2 separate regions of the Homo sapiens genome follow, and region 1 is linked to region 2. The links come from fine-mapping of genetic effects on gene expression. A gene starts in region 2. The other region holds a variant in brackets. All regions are shown on one strand. Distances are from middle to middle. Region 1 overlaps PAK5 (p21 (RAC1) activated kinase 5). Region 2 holds the start of PAK5 (p21 (RAC1) activated kinase 5).

Region 1 (2,916 bases), 80 kb after region 2:
TGGTGATGCATGCCTGTAGTTCCAGCTACTCAGGAGGCTGAGGCACGAGAATCACTGCAACCTGGAAGGTGGAGATTGCAGTGAGCCGAGATCGTACCACGGCACTCCAGCCTGAGTGACAAAGTAATACTCTGTCTAAAAAAAAAAAAAAAAAGAAAAGAAAAGAAAAAAGATAAATGTCAGATGAATTGATATAGATGATGAACTTCAAAAAGAAGCTAAACTCAAATATACATTTTTTTTTTTTTTTCTCAACCATCAAAAACTTGAAATTCTCTGTTGAGAACTTCTGGGATCTTTTCTGACCATTCTGTCAGGAGCAGCCCAGTAGATTTGTAGAATTAATGTTGACACTTCACACCTTTTATGAGTCCCTATCCAAATGGGAGAACGGAAGATTTGTATCAGACAGTTTTGCTAAGAATTGAAAACAAGAGCCATTTTTTGGCTGTTAACCAGAATGAATTGTTGATCAAGTAGATCATTTAGCCCTCAATACTGGAACTCTTGATGAATAGCATGGAGAACTAAATTATAAAGTTTCAAGATTTTTTCACTATTTTGTCATTGTCCTAAAAGTCTGGAATGAGCTTTTTAAGTTTCTGTCTCTGTTTTTGGCTCTAATTTTTGACATCCCCCACAAAACAAAGTAGTACTTCAGTTATTGAAAGCCATTATGATTTTCAGTAAATATGTCTCATGTTGCTATAACACTCTGGTGGTCACAGCTACCCAATAACATCACATGGGAAGGACAGCTACATGGTTCAATTTAATTACAAATATTTACACACTTTCAATATAAGCCCTGGAAAACATTAGCGTAGGGTGACCCCTCCCAGTAGGATAGCAGCTTTTTGCAGCTCAAAGCTGTATTCTTTCCTAAAAGGTTTTATTTGACTAAATGGCTGACAGGCGGATATTGAATAGAGAATGAGATGGTTGGTATATGTTACGACTTGAATGTAACCCTAGACACAGAGTTTAAAATAGTCTGCTGGTGTCTTATAGGGACTTGTTCCCCATGACCCAACATTCCTGAGACCAGGCAACATTCTCTTCCTGCCTCCAGGGAGTCATTTCGTAGCTGGGTTTGGGTAAACGTTGTGGGTTTCAAAAAAGCCCCATGCATGGGACCAGGAGAGCCTCCTTTTTCGACCTTGTACCACAGGCATCACCAACTACTCAAGATGTAACTTTGTTCAGGGCAGGGCTACTCAAAGTGAGGATCCCTTTCCTTCATCTGGGAGCTTGATAGAGATGCAAATTCATGGGCTCCTCACCTACTGACTCTGAATCACTGGGGTGTGGCCAGGAATCTGTGTTTTAACAATCTCTCCCTTAAATTCTGTGAAATATCACAATTTTAGATTTCCCATAGGTGTGAGGCAACAAGCAGACATTAGCTGAATACTTCTCAAAAGATGATCGTGATCATCTGTTCACCTTGCCAAATAGAAGTTTCCCATAATGCAAACAGAGGAACACTTATCTAT[A/T]GGATATGATAAGAAACAGGTTCTGACAAATGTAAATATGCTACAAAGTAATTTTATTAAAACATGGTGTTATCAGATGTTTAGCAGTGAAAAGAGATAGTAAAATTAAAAAGCCCAGCTACATTCTGCATCATCTTATATAACTTGCTACCCTTTCAATTAATACTTTTCCTGGATTTGTTATCTTGTAGGACGTAGTGTTAAGTGAAATCTTCCTTATTTGATTGTGTTCTCATATTGAATGCTTGCTTGCTTTCTCAGTAAGAGTTCCTAGGAGCCAAGCAAATATTACATTAGTGCATAATTCCTCCAGGGACTGTGTTGTGGCTGGAGTCACAAGGGGTTCTGTCCCCTTTGGAGAGCAGACCTGGAACTACACTCAGTGGGCTCTGAAACCTGAGCCCCAGAGCCTGTTTTGTTGGTAAAAACTTTGCTGCCTTTCTTTTCCTTAGACATGGCCTCCAGGCAGAAGACAAAGTAGACAATTTATAAAGAAGGGAGCCTGTGGATGTCACAGAGGCATTTCTTGTCCTTACTGGGGCAAGGACATAAATAGAACACATTTTATTTCTATAAGCTGCTATGTTCATTTTAGTTCCCACACATTTAGTGGTGAACTGATAAATATTTAACAACCTAGACTCCAAGGGGGAAAGCCTTGAATTTTAGCCTTGGCAAGTTTTCAAAATCTAAATACCATGGCCAATTTCAAGCTACCAATGCAATGTCACAAAGTCATGGTAGTGGGGCTGAAACAAGAGGCTGCAATCAGCTATCACTGTTCTATGCGAGCTGGCTTCAGCATACCACTATGCAAAGTACTCCCTTCCAGGTACTCGCTGAGATAGAAGATGGGAATTGAGCTAGCCCATGGTAGGCATGGATAGGAAGGAGACATCACTGTTGTTGCACGGGCTTGGCATGTGGGGAGATCTGTTGGTGTTCAGTACATGAGAAAACATTCATGTGTTCGATGCCACTCCCTTCTATGCTAATGTTTTGGCCACATGTGTTGGGGAGGTAAAATGCTGGATTCTATACTTCTGTTAATAGTATGATGAGTTCACCACAAAGCATAAGGCTAGAAAGGACATCCGTACCTCACATTTTCAGATAAATGACTTAGCAACACTATTATTCCCTGCTAAGGCTGCCTCAAGAGCAAAAGCAGGCATGCACACAATTCTTTGTTGCCCCAGAAAGTATCGCATACATTTGCTATTGTAGGAAAGTATAAAAAAGCTTGCAATCCAAATAAGGCTATGAAGTAGCTCCCAAGGGCAGCATAACTTCTGAAGCAAACTCCTTCTGCAAAGAATCCTGTTATTTATATACCAAGAGCAACAAACATCCATATTTACTTTTGTCTGTGCCCGAATTCAACATTTGATTGTTCTTGTCACTGTGAGGCTTGGCGTCT
Region 2 (2,916 bases):
AGTGATTAAAGTTCAATATTTCAAATAAAAATTTTAACTGATACTAACCAATGACAAATAAACGATATCTCAGTAAAAATATGTTCTGGCTTTTGCATCTATGTGAGCACACATATAAGAAAGTCAAAAGTAGAAAATATTTATGCATATAGTTGTGGGGGTGACGATGGTGGCAGTGGGTAGGTTGTTAGGGCTGTGTGCAGCTTTGAGAAGGAAGAGATGAGTATGATACACAAGGACATGGGACTACTGAGGGAGAAAAGTAATCATCCATTTATCCTGTGGTTTCTGTTTTGATATGGCCAGTACAATATTAAAGGTACTAAGTGAATGGAAAACAAGCAAGGGGAAATGATAACTACTATACTATTAGCTAGAAAACTGTCTAAGGTCATTGAGTATAATAAGGAACGGAGAGATACAAATCCTTATTTTGTAACCTGCTATCTAGTTATGGGATCAGATTCCATATCCACTACTAGCTCATAAGGGTACTCTTGTGGCAGCTGAAGACAGACAAGAGCGTGGCTTCTTCATTTCCAAGGGTGAAAACTCAGGACTACTTCGTGAATGTCTTTCATTCACTAGAGTCTTGATAATGCTGGAGACTTCAAGAGTCTGGGAGGGCAGTAGGCAACTGGGAAGTTTAAGTTGAACCACAAATATCGTTGCAAACTTCAGCCCAAACATCACTGAACACAAAGGCCTGACATCTCTTGGTACAAAAATGCGCTCTATGTTTGTCATAATCTGTCGGCTTTCTTAACTAGGCAAGCCCAAGCTTGCTATTAGATGTACAATAAACACTTTGATGCCCAGTCTGAGTTTTTGTCCCAGCTCAGGAAAGGCAAGGGGACAGCCAAGGCAGACTGGTTCAGACTTGACCGGGGCAGCTCATCCAGCAACTGGCTTACTAGCCAGCTAGCAAAGTGAGCATGAAAAGGTCCAGGAATCCTTCTTCCCCTGGGCCTTAAATTCGAAATCAGACAGCAGCCAAGGAGAAGCTGGGTGGTCACAGCCTAGCCCCACAAACACTCCTTCCAGGTAAGGCTCAGCAACCCCAGGCTGGAGGAGTCTCTGTGGACACCAGAGACCATTGCTAGGCTGGCGGATTGAAGGATGGCCACTGAGAGGTCACAGATAAGGGGTTCTCTAGATGTTTGCTACTCGGAGTGGTGGGAGGGCCAGCAGCAGCAGCATCACCTGCGAGGTTGTTAGGCTTGCAGAATCTCAGGACCCAGCCAATTGAATCTGAATCTGCATTTTAATTCACAGGCACATGAAAGTTTGAGAATCACCGGTCCAGGTGGTGGCAAAGAGGCCAGCCCACTGTTCTGCTTCTCAGCCCCTCCTCCTCCCCACCTCTGCTAGCCTCTTAAGCAAAACTCAATCCTGCAATGGTCCTGAACAACATTTCTGCAAATCCCGAGTGTTGGGGGAGAGGGCGTGCAGGAGCTGCCCCCGCCGGGGACGACTGGGAGTAAACGTGATTGGATTGGTCGCCTGCTCCAGCTCCCGGCTCCTGGCTCCTGCACCCTGAGTGTAGACACGCCCCCCGACCCTCCCCCTCACCTCCACCCCCGGCCGCCGCTACAGCCTGCCTCCCGCCGGCTGCCACGAAAACCCGGAGCAGCTGCGTACGCTCATGGACAGTCCTCCGAGGGGCGAAGCCGGGCAGCTGGGCATGCTCAGTAGCTGGGGGAGGTTTGGGTGGAGAGTAGAAAGCTGTGGCTCTGCCTCTCACCCCCTCCCGCTGGCCCCCGCCCCCCTTGCCCCTACCCAGCCAGTAGTAGTTCCCCAGCGTGCGCCCGGGGAGACCGGGAACATGGCGCTGGGAGCGCTGTAGCAGCTGAGAAGGGGCTGAGGCACCGCCGCTTCGCTGACAGCCGGCCACCAGGTAGGCAGGCGCGCCTGTCGGGACTGCCTGGGTGGGTATCGGCGAGAGGAGAGGCGCCTGCGGGGATGCGCGCCGCTGGTAACCGGAGCATCTCTCTTTGCCGGGAGAGGATGCGAAGAGGACCACTGTGACAGCGCGATCCTGCATCTCCTAGGAGATGCAAAGGCTAGGGACCTGCTGCCTGGAGGGTAGGGATAGGGGACCGCCCACCCTCAACCCATGCGCTACTATCCAGCCTGGGCTCTCTACCAACCAAATAAAGGATGGTTCCATTTTGCTGGGCGGGAGGGCGTGGAGGAGAACCCCGGATTCCAGCCCTGAGAGCGTGCTGGTACCCCGAACTGCTCGCAAGCCCAGCACCAGTTCTTTGTGTGTATACAGCAGCGCACGCCCTGGGGGTGCCACGGCGCTGCTTTTCCCGAGAAGTGTTGGACATATTGCCAGAGCAGGATTCCCGCATGGTTTTTGTCTTTTGGCAGGTGTGGACTGGAGGATGCAATAGCTGAGCCTTTATGAGGCTGTGTTTTCCTTTGTTATTTGTGTGTGTGTGTGTGTGCGCGCGTGTGTGTGTGCGCGCGCGCCTGGTGGGTTGTAATGGAGAGACAGAGAGAGAACTTCTGCTTGTGGGCACCCTTGTGAGCAGGGCGTGGAAGAGGATCTTGGTTCCAAACTCTTGTCAAAATTGTGTGCCATGTCAGCCTCCTAGAGGGTAAACTTGAGAAGTCCAGGGATCATCACTGCTCAGTTTGGAGGATAAGCGCGATCGCCCTTCTTGAAACCATGTGTGTGTATATGGAGCTTTCAACTCGGGCTGAGTTAATTTGTCAACATTAGATATCAATTAAGGGAACCTGAAACGCTGAGGCTATTTATGGTGGTCTTTTTATGGCCAGAATAATAAACAAAAAGAAAAGTTGGCACAAAGCCAGAGGAAAGTGTCATTGTTAATAGTTGATGACAGCTTGAAAGACTGAACACACTTTTAGGAAAATCAGGAAACCTGGCATTCTACGGAGTTC

Evidence for each region. PIP is the estimated chance that this variant, and not a neighbour inherited with it, causes the effect.
Region 1: its variant is the best candidate, but not a certain one, in a credible set for the expression of PAK5 in tibial artery (GTEx, PIP 0.52).

The regions. Positions count from the first base shown.
Region 1 is chr20:9,757,912-9,760,827 of GRCh38, reverse strand. The region is part of intron 1 of PAK5 (p21 (RAC1) activated kinase 5); the gene reads left to right. Among named protein-coding and RNA genes, the nearest start is that of PAK5, 80 kb to the left of the region's middle. The variant A/T (reference allele first, on the strand shown) is at 1,497.
Region 2 is chr20:9,837,743-9,840,658 of GRCh38, reverse strand. PAK5 (p21 (RAC1) activated kinase 5) reads left to right here and starts at 1,583. Exons shown (of 10, transcript NM_177990.4): 1 at 1,583-1,897.